Homo sapiens: one gene and its partner. The protein of the gene in region 2 purifies or fractionates together with the protein of the main gene of each other region. This does not show direct contact. Each region holds a gene or a part of one and is shown on either strand. Other genes may lie near its edges.

What was found. Proteins that work in one complex are often made in the same cells at the same time.
Region 1: the proteins of CCDC68 (region 2) and RABGAP1 purify together in Homo sapiens (affinity purification with mass spectrometry; 4 studies listed by BioGRID and IntAct, with this or other methods). This does not show direct contact.

The regions. Positions count from the first base shown.
Region 1 is NC_000009.12:122,936,683-122,944,019, reverse strand, and holds the start of RABGAP1 (rab GTPase-activating protein 1), read right to left. Parts: upstream 3,001-7,337; 5' UTR 2,927-3,000; intron 2,882-2,926; exon of another isoform or gene 2,772-2,881; intron 1-2,771. UniProt on the Homo sapiens protein: May act as a GTPase-activating protein of RAB6A. May play a role in microtubule nucleation by centrosome. May participate in a RAB6A-mediated pathway involved in the metaphase-anaphase transition.
Region 2 is NC_000018.10:54,956,413-54,964,197, forward strand, and holds the start of CCDC68 (coiled-coil domain-containing protein 68), read right to left. Parts: upstream 3,050-7,785; 5' UTR 2,924-3,049; exon of another isoform or gene 2,771-2,923; intron 1,637-2,770; exon of another isoform or gene 1,563-1,636; intron 1-1,562. UniProt on the Homo sapiens protein: Centriolar protein required for centriole subdistal appendage assembly and microtubule anchoring in interphase cells. Together with CCDC120, cooperate with subdistal appendage components ODF2, NIN and CEP170 for hierarchical subdistal appendage assembly.

The DNA of each region.
Region 1 (7,337 bases), on a different chromosome or scaffold from region 2:
CCTCCAAAGGAGGCTTTCCTTTAGCTGGAAATATACTGAATAAAAAACAAAAACTTCTTTTTTTTTTGAGACGGAGTCTCACTCTGTCGCCCAGGCTGGAGTGCAGTGGTGCGATCTTGGCTCACTGCAAGCTCCGCCTCCCGGGTTCACGCCATTCTCCTGCCTCAGCCTCCCGAGTAGCTGGGACTACAGGCACCTGCCACCACGCCTGGCTAATTTTTTGTATTTTTAGTAGAGACGGGGTTTCACAGTGTTAGCCAGGATGGTCTCGATCTCCTGACCTTGTTATCCGCCTGCCTTGGCCTCCCAAAGTGCTGGGATTACAGGCGTGAGCCACCGCGCCCAGCCAACAGACTTCTTTAAAAGAAGCTGGGCTACAAAGTTCAGTTAATAAATTGTGTGGAAAACCATGCCCCTCATGTAGATAAAGTGCATAATACAGTTCTCTCAATATGCAGCAGAAAAGGTAGGAAACAGGTGTCTCTGTTCCCACTACATTACTACAACTCTTATAAACTGCAAACAAAATACTATGCCAAAAATGCCAAAATGCACATAGCTGATAGGTTAACTTTCCAAACAAATATATACCTATTAATGTCAATGCGTTAACTGTAAACTGAATCATAACACTCAATTAAAAGAAAGTGTGGCCGGGCGCAGTGGCTCACGCCTGTAATCCCTGCACTTTGGGAGGCTGAGGCAGGTGGATCACCTGAGGTCAGGAGTTCAAGACCAGCCTGGCCAACATGATGAAACCCCGTCTCTAGTAAAAATACAAAAAATTAGCTAGGCGTGGTGGCACACGCCTGTAATCCCAAGCTGAGTCAGGAGAATCAGTTCCTTGAACCCAGGAGGCGGAGGTTGCAGTGAGCCAAGATCACTCCAGCCTGGGCAACAAGAGCACAACTCAGTCTCAAAAAAAAAAAAAAAAAAAAAAAAAAAAAGAAAGTGCACCACAACATGACTATATCTCAGATTTTTTGTTGTTTTTTTATTTTTTATTTTTTGATGGGAACTGGCTGTGTTACCCAGGCTAGAGTGCAGTGGCACCCATCATAGCTTACTGCAGTCTTGAACTTCTCAACTCAAGTAGTCCTCCCACCTCAGACTCCCAAAGTGTTGGGATTACAAGCATGAATCACCTCACGCCACAAATATTTCAACTTTAATTATGAATCTGAGTTAATATCTTGAATTAAAATTACATATGAATTTTAAATGTTACCAATACATAAAAATCAATCATGGATTGAAATTTTATTAATACAAAGTGAACTCTACACAGGAAGATTTATAAAGACTTCTCTTCCCTATTTTGTTTTTTTGTGTTTTTTTTTTTTTTTTTTTGAGACGGAGTCTCGCTCTGTTGCTCAGACTGGAGTGCAATGGCACAATATCGGCCCACTGCAACCTCTGCCTCCCGGGTTCAAGCGATTCTGTTGCCTCAGCCTCCCGATTAGCTGGGACTACAGGCGCCTGCCACTACGCCCGTCTAATTTTTGTATTTTCAGTAGAGACCTGGTTTCACCATATTGGACAGGCTGGTCTCGAACTCCTGACCTTGTGATCCACCCGCCTCAACCTCCTAAAATGCTGGATCACAGGCGTGAACGCACCCGGCCCCTATTTTCAGTTTTCATAAGTAAGCTCTAGTTAAGTCTTCAATACATATTAAATAGCACCTTATACAAACTTGAACTAAGGCAACACGTCCTTCGTTTAAAAAAAAGTTGGATGAACCCTCCTTAGTACCTAAGCTTTTTTTCCCAACTACTTTTCAAACATCAGTTTAATGTTACAAACACAATTCCATTCACCTTCCGTTGTTTTTTTGTTTTGTTTTGTTTTGTTTTTTGTTTCCGAAACAAAAACAGCTGGAAACTCACTTATTGTGTACTTACTACTCCAGGCACACGTTTGTAAATACATGTGAATGGAAATATAAAAGGAATTGTGAAACCCTGTCCCTAACAGGTTTTTTTCCCTGACAAAAAGCCAACGAAAGTCAAAAGACCTCAAATTCAAGTTGGAACATGATTTAAAACTAACGGAGCACTAGTAGCGGGAACACTAGCAGCATGATCACTTAACACGGTCTCCTAGGACATTTGTTTCCAAAAAAGAATTCTCGAGTAACCAAAGGTATGCAGATGCGTGAAACGCAGGAGCAGATGATAAACAGTCTGGATGCAGAAGAGCAGAGACCAAAGTACTACCAGGCAATGGACAGCGAACTCCTGGAAGTCTTGAGGTTATCCTTTGGCTCAACACGTAAAACCCTAAGGGTGCGGATAATCAAAAGACACAGCGATGAGGTACTGGGGTAGCTGCTTCAAGGAGATGAGAAGACTGGGATGCCAAGAACGCTTTAATTGCAGACGGGGAAATGAGACTGAAAGACCAACCTGAGATGGCAAAGCGACAGTGAAAACTAGCAAGTCTTTGAAATTTAGGCGCAGCCCAGGACAGCCTGAGGCCCAGGCTAGCTTAAGTCACAGATACAGGCCTAGTGAGCAATGGGGAGAAACTGAGGCGGGGGGGAGCGGCTGGATTCCCAAATAGGACCAAGCATAAAACATTAAAGTCAAGACACAAACCGGCTTTGCTGGGGGACCAGAGGGAGGGCCAAAAACGCAAGACTCAGAAGACCGGCACCCACACAGACAGGGGGAACCGGTTTGGGCAGGGGCTCCCAGAGCGGCCCAGCCTGCGCATGCGCCCTCTCCCCTCCGTCGCAGTTCCCCCTCCCCCCAATCACGGCTCCCCTCAGAACTCGGCCCGTCGAGGGAGCTGAGAGCAGCTCCACTGGCCCGACCCCGCGGGATGAGAAGACAGCTTGGCTCCCCGCAGGGGCCGTCGGAAAATACCCCTGGGGTTGGTAGGTAGGAGGGTGGGAGGAGGAGGAGGGGAAACACGGCCCTACCCGACCTGCCGTCTCCTCCTCCGCCGCCCGCCGCTCGCCGTCCCGGAGGCTCCGCCGCCTGGGCCTCCCAAACCGCCCTGTCCCCGCCCCCCCACCCCTTTACTCACGTGAGAGCGACTTCTTCCGCCCTCCGCCCCGCCCCCTGCCCCGTCTCATAGGTCTGCGACCATGACGAGCGACCCTATTGGCCCAATACCGGGAAGCGAGGCGGAGCTTCCTCTTCTCCGAGCCCCACCTGGGCTTTCAGCCCGCCTCAGGACTGTGCGCCTGCGCGAAGTGCACTGGCTGTGAGCTGGACCTGGGCTGTCTTGTGTATTTGGAGTTGGACAGCCAACTACGTGACTGCAGCCGGGACTGGGGACGATGGAAGCGGACTGGGTAGTACCTGTTGAGCCTAACAAAGGGTACAACCCCAGAGTACTGGTGCTTGAGCAAGGAATCCCCCTGCTCACCTTTCATGTGCAAGTCCTGTTTGAAAATCAGTACTTCACAGTGTAATAAAATTCACCTGGCATTTACTGAGGGCGCACGGTGTGTCAGGGATTGTGATGGTTCTTTATGTGGCTATCTCATTTCAGCTTCACCACAAACCCGTCAGAATGGTACCATTTTTCTCCTTTTATAAAGTAATTTAGCTTTAGTTACAGAATCCAGTCTAGAAGTCAAAACTTCCGACTGCCAAGTCCTAAAACCACTGGTACAACACAGCTGCCTAAAGGCATTTAAGGCACACAAGAGGACAGAAATGGACAAGGTTACATCAGATTGTGACTCAAAGATGAGATTTTTATTTAAAAATCATTCAAAGGTGAAACACAGCAACAGCAATATAATGAAGTTTAAAGTCCCTGTCCTCAATGAATGTACAATGCAGTTGGGAACAAAAACAATGATTATTAAAGTGCTAGTTAAGTCTTATTTTTAAAGAGACCCTATCTTGTCCAGGATGCAGTGCTGTGGCTATTCACAGACGATCATATCACACTCCACCCTCGAACTCCTGGGCTCAAGCTATCCTACCACCTCAGCCTCCTGAGTAGCTGGGACTGTACATAGGCATGCACCACTGCACCTGGCTCATAAGACTTGATAATTTATAAAATAATTCTACAGCCTCTTCCTTACTCTTCCCCTTTATTTATTCCAACTGGCATATGCTCTTTTCCTGGTGAGTGAGTCGTCTACAGTGTTTTCTGGTGGATAATGCATCCCGATCAACCAGAGAAAAAACAGTGAGAAAAATCTGTGTTCTGTTGCAATCCCTCTGTGATTTGTCTAATACAATAGATGTGGGTGTACCCCTGCAGAAAAATAGTTTCGCTTCCTTTCTCCTTATACAGTTACAAAATATCCATTTCAAGATATTCAAAGAATAAAGTATTAGGGAGAAAGTAAAATCCCCTGAACTCCCAACAAAACCACTTTTAACGTTTTGGTGCCCATACTTTCATGTATTTCTTGATTCATGGACACCCCAAATATTTATGTAAATCTTAACATACATTTTTAAATAAAATTGTACTACACAATCAGTACAACATGCTTTGGAGAATAGACACAAGCTAAAACAACAACAAAAAAAGAAAACATTGCATTTAAAAAAAATTTTTTTTAATAAAAAAGGCCAGGTGTGGTGGCTCATGCCTGTAATTTTAACACTTTGGGAGGCTGAGGTGGGAGGATGGCTTGAGCCTAGGAGTTCGAGACCAGCCTGGGCAACATAGTGAGACCGTGTCTCTATGTTTTAATGAAAAACAAAAAAAAACCATGGCATTCCCAGGGCCAATGTTAATACTTTAGAGTATATCCTTCTGTGTGTGTGTATTTTTTTTTTCAAAATGAGATCACTTTAGTCATCTCCTTTTTCAATTAAAAATATCTACCTTATTTCAGTACATTTTCTTCTCACCTAATTCCTAGATCACATTCACATTTTCTATCCATCTAAAGTTATTTTTACAGTTGGCTTTCTTAACTCAGTAATGTTACAGGAAAATTTCCTCTCACATAATACCTAACTACAATCAAATATTCTGTTGACCAAATTATATTTTTCTACAACCAGTATACCCAAATTATCCAATTCAGGACCATACATTCCATCTGGTTACATCCCTTGACTTTTTAATTATGGCACTTAAAAAAAAATTAAAAGATTCTTGTTCACTGTAGAAATCAGGCCACTTGAAGTGCAAAATGTTTTTATCTGAGTGGTTGCTTCCTCATGAAGTCATTGAGCTTGTTCCTGCAAGCCTTGTATTTCTTGAACAAGAAAGTTATATTTGAAGACTCAGTGGATTCAAGTCAAACATATCAGACTAGTATACCTCACAAGTGACAGGTTATACTTCATGTTTCATTATATTACATACAACGTTATGAATCTAACATGTTAGATATTATGTTAGATACATAACATTGTATCTACAATAGATATAACATTTATTGTATCTTACAGAGTTATGCTAATATTGACCACTGGATTAGTGATGACATACATGTTGTTTTTATCATCTAATCCATTTTAAAAATAGACTATAGTCTGTTTCAATGCCTACCAATGCTATATATTGATATCCCATTCACAGAAAATGAATTTTGGTTTCCAAATATGCTCAACTTTTTTTCAGTAAGTGACTTTGTACCCAAGAAAATGTGGTTACAGTATATGAATGGAATGTGGGGCTGGTGTGAAATAAAGCAATGTAGTAGGCTGGAGCCAAAATAGGAAGGTCCTTGAATGCTAAAATAAGGAAACTGAAGTTCACTCTATAGACACACGGGTGCCCTTGGATATTTTAAAGGACAGTGACAATATTAGATTTGGGGTTTTTTTAAAGATCACTCTAGTAAAACTAGAGCAGGGAAAAGGGGAGGTTGATAGAATAGTTTGGAGGCTGCCTAAGATGAGGAAGGCTTGAGCTAAGGAAGCAGGAGGTAAAACGAAGGAACAGGGTTCCGCGGGTATTTTACAAAGAAATATATTCAAATTTGCTGGTTCTTTCTTCTGCTCATTCAAATCTGTTTTTGAACCCCTCTATGTAAATTTTTCATTTCAGTTACTGTATCTTTCAGGTCTAGAATTTCATTTCAGCTCCTTTTTTTTCTAAGAGTCTCGCTCTGTCACCCAGGCTGGAGTGCAGTGGTGCAATCTGGGTGCACTGCAACCTCCACCTCCTGGGTTCAAGTGATTCTCCTGCCTTACCCTCCTGAGTAGCTGGGAACACAGGCATGCCACCACACCCAGCTAGTTCTTGTATTTTTAGTAGAGATGAGGTTTCACCATGTTGGCCAGGCTGGTCTCGAACTCCTGACCTCATGATCCACGAGCCTTGGCCTCCCAAAGTGCTGGGATTACCGGCATGAGCCATCACACCTGGCCTCAGCTCCTTTTTATAATTTCTCTTTAATGATAGTCTAATTTTATTCATACATTGTTTTCCTGACTTTGTTCATGTCTTCCTTTAGTCCTTTTTCTGTTTGTTTGTTTTTTTTTGGAGATAGAGTCTCACTCTGTCACCCAGGCTGGAGAGCAGTGGCAGGAACTCAACTCACTGCAAACTCCGCCTCCCAGGTTCAAGCAATTCTCCTCCCTCAGCCTCCTGAAAAGCTGAGATTACAGGCGTACGCCACCATGCCCAGCTAATTTTTGTATTTAGTAGAGACAGGGTTTCACCATGTTGGCCAGGCTGGTCTCGAACTCCTGACCTCAGGTGATCTGCCCACCTTGGCTTCCCAAAGCGCTGGGATTACAGGCGTGAGCCACCCCACGCCCAGCCCTGTTAGTTCTTCGAACGACTTCAAAATAGTTGTTTTAAAGCCTTTGTCTATTAACTCAGACATCTATCTTGGCTTCTGTGGGAATAGTTTGAGTTGATTTATTTTGTTCTTCTGAATTGACCATACTTTCCTGTTTATTTGTATGTCTTGTGATTTTTTTAAAAATTTTATTTTTCAACTAGAGATGGGGTCTCACTATGTTGCCCAGTAACAACCAATTAAGTGGGACTACAACCACATGCCACCACATTTGGCTTCACTTTAAATCCTTATGATTTGTTGTTGTTGAAAATTGAACATTTGAATCTCATAATGTGGTGAATCTGAAAATAAGATTCTCCTGCCCCCATGTTTGCTGGGCTTTTGTAATTGTCTCTGTGCTGGGGATCAGGATCAGCCTCGGGTGAAAGCTTAAGGTTTTCTCAGGTCTTTTCTTAGCCTGTGTCTTTCCCTGGTTATATGCAGTAGCTTTCTACTTTCCCCTGCCTAAGTGATTGCTTTTGAATATCCTAATCCTTCAATATCTGACTCATAAATGGAGTAAAAGGGAAGCAAACAAACAAAACAGGTGCTATTCTTTTAAAACCCTTGGAAAGAGGTTCAGCTGGTGGGGGGTCAAAACAGTGGCAAC
Region 2 (7,785 bases):
GCACCAAATAAGAGGTTGGCTCATATCAGTTATTCTCACATTATGCTACCATAGAAGCTGCACCAATGTATCTGTTTTACCATGCAAAAGTATTTGCAGAAAGGTCTACCAAATGGTGAACAAAATGCGGCATAGCCATGGCATGGAATAAATCCTAGTTAAGCAATAAAAAGGAACCAACTACAGCTACATGTGACAACCTGAATAAACCTCAACAGCTATTCTAACTGAAAAAAGCCAGATGCTAAAGACTATATATTGTACGATTCCATCTGTATGAAATGTCCAGAAAAGGCAGATCTAAACAGACAAAATAGATTAGGGGTTGCTGGGGCTGGGGTAAGAACGGTGAGTGATTGCAAACAGGCCCCAGGGATATTTGGGGAATGATGAAGTGATCTAAAATTGGATTGTGCTAATGGTTGCACCATTCAGTAAATTTACCAAAAATCATTGAATTATACACTTGGATGTATTTTATGGTATGTAAATTATACCTCCAATAAAGCTTTTTTAAAAAAAAATACAGAAGGAAAAGTAAGAATAACTTGAATAAAGATGCTGTTTTCCTCTGGGGGTGGGGTGAATGTAACTGTAGTCTTATTTTTCTAATTTATAGGAAAAAATATAATTTAATGGATAGATGTTTTTCAGTTTTAAATTTTTTGTTCATTAATTTTTGTCTCTAGATTATTGTCATCCATACTACAAGTTTAGTTTTTATTTAATTTGCATGAAATTGATACTTAGCTATTTTAAGTTAATATTTCATAACATTAAGCCTGGAACACATGATTCCTAAGTTCTTCCCCAACCTAAACAAAAGAGAAAACCACTGAGCAGAATAACATGCAAGCTCCTCTATCATTTTTAGACTTGACTTTTTAAATCAGTGAAAGGAAATATGTGATTTGAAACTAATCTAGTTTTAGTCACTGTCGAAATTGAATGGATCATTTATGTGGTCTGTAAATCTATGGCCTTGACTTGGGGTGGCCTGGAGGACTCCAATGTAGTAAATTCCAGGAGGATAGAAATGTGTCTGATTTACACAGGGCTGTGTTTGGCCCAGACCCTACTTCCCCTCCCATCTGGTTCTCCCACACAGAACACAGTGTCCTCAATAAATATTGTTTCAATGAATACATGAATAGGCCCACAAATTTACAGATGTACCAAATAGTTTCTAAAACAATGTACACACACACACACACACTCTCTCTCTCTCTCTCTCTCTCTCTCTCTCATTTTCCAAACCTATATAAATGGCTGTTTTTGTGCTTAGTAAATGACATTCATTTAAACGTGTTAGTAAATTCATGGTAAAATTTTGCCATTATGAAATGTTTTCAATCAATAAATAGCCATATAATTTTGATGTAAATATCTCAGTTCTAAAGATGAGAAACTACTATTTTAAAAGACTTTTACATTCCCATCAAAATCTTCAGTTATTTCCCCTTTCAGTCATTATTCCAAGCAAATAAACACCTCATTTTTCAGGTTTGTCTAAATCTAGCTTACATTTTTTAGCTTTGGCCAAAATTTGGATTACAACTCACCTTCAATGTTGAGCATACTGTAAACAAATAAGCTAACAAATAACATGCCTATCAGTAATTCACAAAATAGCAACAGTATTAATTTCAAAAGTCTCTTTCTAGTTAGGACAAGGGATCAATTTATTTTGTAAATAACAAGAGGAAAGAACCTTCTTATGACGTCGGCCTTATGACGTTGGCCTGGGTCCCAAGAAGTGTAGTTGTTTTCATTCTTTCTGCAAACATTTGAGGAACCACACGGGGATACTCCCTGCCTTGGGCAGAAATTCCTCTGTGTCAGGGGCCTTCCCTCTCAAATTGGGAGTGGGGTGGGGAAGAGAGTGGGCAGCGGGGGAAAAGCATAACAACAGCACCAATTGTGTCTGCCAGGGTACCTGACACTCCTGCCCAGCTCACATATCAGGAAAACCAGACTTCAGTAGCTCTGAATATTTAATGGCATTAGGTAAAATCAAAAGAACAGATTATCTCCTCCCTATCACAAACACAGAATAATTCCTTTTTGTATTCTGACACTTCATCCGAACTATATACACCAAGAAAGTAAAAGAGGTTTTGATTCCTAAAATAAAACAATCAGAATATAATGGGGAGCAGGTACACCTTCAGTTATGTTCAGGGCTTGTTGCTTGTTCTGATCCTTATATTCAATTTTGTCTTCACTTCCAAAAAGGCTGAAAATTCACAGCTATGTTATCATCCAATCTAAAAACTACACTTGCACGGTCCCGTACTAACCTTCAGTAAGATAAGAGTGTTCCTTTGTCTAGCCGCCTAGCACTCTGTAACTTCCACATCTAAAATATCATGATGCTACTCAACATTAAGGAAAAGGTCAAGCAATGGGCTGCTCTTTTTACTACACCTGCGGCTGCAGAAGCCCGCACAAATGAATGAAGACAGCCACCTTCATTCATCTCTGCTCTTTAAAAAATGCGAGCGCAGTGACCTGTCAAAGCCACCACGCTGGAGTTCCTAGGTCAGGGCGTTTACCGCAGGACTTTTCTCCATAGCCTCTGAAATTAGCAGGCAGAAATCGCGGGGACCCCTGACAAACGGATTGTATAACAACAACCTAAATAAATAATCAGGTGTGCGCCGGACTAAGTAGGGGTTCCTCTCTGCGGAAAAGCAGCTCTTCCCAATGGGGAAGAAACTTCTCGCCCAGGAAATTCGAGCCCAGAACCGAGGTTTCCAGGGAGGATTACCTCTTCAACAAGGACCCTTTTACAGGAAATGTCCTTGATGCCAGGAACTCCACTGGGGAAGCCGCTGGAAAGGCACCTGGACACCCACACACATGGAGGGGATGCGGGGGCGCGCCGCAGGGACCGGGCCCGAAGGTGGCCAGACTCGCCTACCTTGTGGGGCGCCCAGCCGACGCGGGGTCCCGGTGCTGCTCCTCCCCTGGGCGATCGGACCTTGGGGCCAGGGTCGGCTGCCAGGGCCCTGCGAGTGCAGCCGCCACCGCCCGCAGGCTTGGCTCCGCCCCGCGGGGCGCGCCCAGGGCAGAGTCCGGCGCCGGTGAGGCCCCGGGGAGGAGTCGCGGCAGGACGCGTACGCCCAGCGCTGGAGAGCCAGGCTCTGCCCCTCACGCCCCTCGCTAGGGTGCTGTACAGGCGGGTGGGGGGAGGGGATCGGCCGCTGCTTTTCAAGAAGGTTCTATTTGCACCCTAAGTTTATAAACTTTTGTTTTTGTTTTTTAAATAATTTTTGATTTTATTGTTTTTAGTATAAATTTATGGAGTACAAGTGCAATTTTGTTGTTTTTTTAAAAAACTTTCTTTTGGAACTTAAAAAAAGTTGCAAAGATAGTAGAGAGAGTCGTCTATATACCCCTCAGTCGGTGTCTCCTAATGCCTACAGCTTCCATAACTGTGGCACATTTGTCAAAACTAAGAAATTCACATTGGGCCAGGTGCGGTGGCTCACGCCTTGGTAATCTCAGCATTTTGAGAGGCCAAGGCAGGCGGGAGGATCGCTTGAGCTCAGGAGTTCGAGACCAGCCTGGGCAACATAGCGAGACCTCATTTCTACTAAAAATATTTTTTAAAAGACATTAACATTGATCTGCCACTATTAACACTACTCCAGACTTGATGTAGCTGTCACTAGCTTTTTGGCTAACGCCTTTCCCTTTCAGGATCCCAGCCAGGATACCACACTGCATTTAGCATCCTGTGCCCTTTGTCTCCTCTAATCCATGACAGTTTCTCTGTCTTTTCTTGACTTTGACAGCTGTAAAGAATTCTAGTAAAGTATTGTGATGAAGTATTCTGGTAAGGTATAGTTTTGTGGGGGTACCTCGACACCCACTCATGTGGGTATTGTCTACTGTTTTTTTCTCATGATGAGACTGGGGGGAGGAAAGACTCAGAGATGAAGTGCCTTCCCCACTGCATCCTCTCAGGGACGATGGCACGATGGCCAGGTGACTTATCACTGGTGACTTGACCTTGATCCCATAGTTAAGGTTGTGTCTGCCAGGTTTCTCTACTGCAAAGCTGTTTTTCTCTTTCCATACACTCTACTCTGAATGGCATGAATGGCATGACTCAATTCAGCTGACACTCAAGATGAGGGCAAGATTAAACTCCATCCCAGAGCAGGGAGTATCTATATGTTATTATTTAGAATGATTCTGTAAGGAAGATTTGTTCCATCTCTCTTGTTTATTCAATCATTTATGTCAGTATTTGTTATGTCAGTATGGACCCATGTATATTTATTTTATACTTTGGGCTAGAATTCAATACTACATTATTAATTTTGTTGCTCAAATGGTTCCAGCTTTGACCACTGGGAACTCTTTCAGGTTGGCTCCTGTGTCTCTCTGAAAGTTCATAAACTTTTAGGATTGTGGGGAAAAAAAAAAGGTGTATTTCCTCCGCCCCCCCTCAACATCTAACAGATTGAGAAAACTGCAACCCAAATCCTTCAATATCCAAGGGCTTTTCAGAATCTTCCTGGGAATCCTATGATTACTGATTCCCACCACAGTTAGAGAGGAATGTTATTTTTTTTTTTTCCTAGCAGATTAACTTGTAGATTGTGACCCAATTGGAGAAGTGAAAGTTGATGGTTCTTAGGTAATTTTTTTGTTAACTAATCCTTGTGGTTCTAGTAAATAGATGTATGTATGTTTACAGACAAATCGTGTTCCAAAGATAGCCATGGATGTTTATTACAAGTTTCAGCATTGAAGAAACCCAGCTGTTGAGGATCATTTGTTACATTGCTTTGGTTTGCTCATGTTTGCATTTGCAAGTTGGTTCCATAAACACCACATTTCCTCCTTCTGAGCTTGGCTTTTGCTCAGCATTTGACACTGCCTGCTTTCTGAGACCTGTCCACCTCTCTTCCTGGCCTTGACCCTTCCTGGAGAAGGAAATCTACTTCTCCATTAGCTTGGGTTGAGCTGGGTAAACACAGGATGCGGTGAAGTACCAGTGAGTACTCCAGAACTGCAGAGCTAACTCATTTTCTATCTTTCAACTATTTTTAACAAAGTTAGAAAAGTAAGAGTTAAAGGAAAACATTTCATACCTAAGACTCACCATATCTGCTATGGACTGAATGATTTGTGTTCCCCCCTAAAAGTTTATATAATGAAATCCTAATCCCCAACGTGGTGGTGAAAGTGGGGTCTTCGGGAAGTAATTAGGTCATGAAGGTAGAGCCCTCATGAGTGGGTTTTAGTGCCCTTCTAAGAAGAGACAAAAGGCTGGGAATAGTGACTCATGCCTATAGTTCCATCTCTTTGGGAGGCCAAGGCAGGTGAATCGCTTGAGCCCAGGAGTTTGAAACCAGCCTGGGCAATATGGCAAAACCTCATCTCTACAAAATATACAAAAATTAGCTGAGCATGGTGGTGCACTCCTGTAGTCCCAGCTACTCAGGAGGCTGAGGCGAAAGGATCACTTCAGCCTGGGAGGTAGAGGCTGTAGTGAGCTGACAGTGTACCACTGCCCTCCAGCCTGGGTAACAGAGTGAGACTCTGTCTCAAATAAAGAGAGGGAGAGAGAGAGAAGAGATATCTGTCATGTGATAACACAGCAAGAAAGCAGCCATCTGCAAACCAGGAAGCAGGCCTCCACAGACACCACATCTCTGGGTGCCTTGATCTTGGACTGCCCAACCTCCAGAACTGTGAGAAATAAATAACTGTGGTTGAAGCCAGTTAATACCAGTCTATGTTATTTTGTTATAGCCCCTGGAACTAAGACAATATCCCAGAAGAAAGCGACAAGGTCAGAGATGAAGCTGAGATTCTTGTGTACGTTTCTGGGCGGGAGAGGAGAGACTTTAAGTGAAAGTGGTCATTCTAATTAGAATGAAATCATAGTTTTATTTCATAGTTCTGCAAATAGACTATTTTCTCAGTAACTTTAATAAAACTTTTGTGGAGGGGAGCAGAGTAAACTCAGGATTCATGAGAGTGTGGAGTTACAATATATTAGCAACCTCCACAGGGAAGCTCAGGAGAATCTATAAACTATTATTAATTTAAAACTCCAGTGGTGTTTCTCAGAGGTTGGATATTGGGGGATTAGGGATGAGGCAGGGATTGATGTTTATGGATTTCTCTTACAGCTACTGCCTTTGATTATTATTTTTATGACAGCATATGTACAAACCATTTAAAATTTTCCTAGAGCTGTATATCTTTACACTTTTAAGATTATCCACATTAAGAAAAAGTATTGCTATTACATAATTTTCGGAATGGCTTTGGTTGGGTCTGATAGAGATTAGGTCCCGGGGACTAAAGCATCCCCAAACCACCCAGAGTGCCCTCGTTGAATAAATCCGTTCTCCTACTCACTCCACTAAAAAGAGGAGGGATTGAGGGTGCAGAAGAAAGCAGCAGATGCAGTCTCCTCTCCTGAAGAACACTGTGAATTGTCACCCACGTTCAAAGAGGGTCTAATTGTAAATCTAACACCCTGCCTTGTGACATTCAGAGCCTGTGGCTTGTGGCATTTGGACCCAGGCTCATATTTGAAATCGCTCTTGTTTATTTCTGTTCAGGGATTATTTGCTGAAAGGGAAAGTTGTGTGTGTGTGTGCGCGCACACACGTGTGCGTGTACTTAGTGCAATTTTATTTTATTTAAAATTTGCATTTAAAATGTATTAAAATTATTTTATTTTAATATTATTTTAAATTTGCATTTAAAATACATGTGTGTGTCTATACACACATACATATATTTAGTGCAATTTTAAATGCAAATTTTACTGTCATTTCCAGCCTCTAACACGTGCGCATACACACACACAAACACACACCATTCTTTAAAACATTTCATTGTCTCCCCATGAGCTCTTATTAAAAGCCTAAACACTTCTCCAGGGAGAGAAGTTGCTTTGCTCTCCCCCATCCACCCCTCCTGCTTCATCTCTTGCCACATTGTTTTTCAACAAGGCTGGATGATTTGTAGTGTTCCAAACCAACTCTCGTTTCTTACCTTATTCCTTTTGTTGCTCTTGTCTCACCCCCACCCCCAACTCCTAGACTAGAATGTTCTTTCTCCTCCTCTTTGACCTGGAAACTCCTTCTCCATTTATTTCCTGTGTATAGGGAAACGTTCCCTGAGCTCCCCAGTTTATGTTGGGTGTCCCACTTAGGTCTTCCCATAAAGTGCTTGAGGCACTGCATTTGCTGTTTTATAAGTTTTCTGTGGGTACTGTAACAAATAACCACACTTGGCTGCTTACAACAGTGCACATTTTTTGTTATAAAGTTCTGTAGGTTAGAAGCCTGTCATGGTACCAGGGTAAAATAAACTATTCCTTACTGGAGTCTCTTGGGGAGAATTTGTTCCCTTGCATTTTCTAGCCTTTTCTAGAGGCTCTCTGCATTTCTCCACTTATAGCCCCTTTCTACACCTTCAAAACCAGCAGCACATGTCCTCCTGACTCTGTCCCACTTTCACTTATAAAGACCTTTGTGATGACATTAAGACCAACTAGATGACCCAAGATAATCTCCCCATCTCAACATCCTCAACTTGATCACATCTGCAAAGTCTCTTTTCCACATAAGATAACATATTCACAGGGGCTAAGGATTAGGACATGGACTTCTTTGCAGGAGGGCATTATTCTGCCTACCATAGTTTTGTACCTAGGTCAGGTCATAATTCAAACATTAATTAGGTTTTGTTATGAAATATTTCATTTTTAAGGCACAAAATCAAGAAGGCTTTGCAAAATTATAA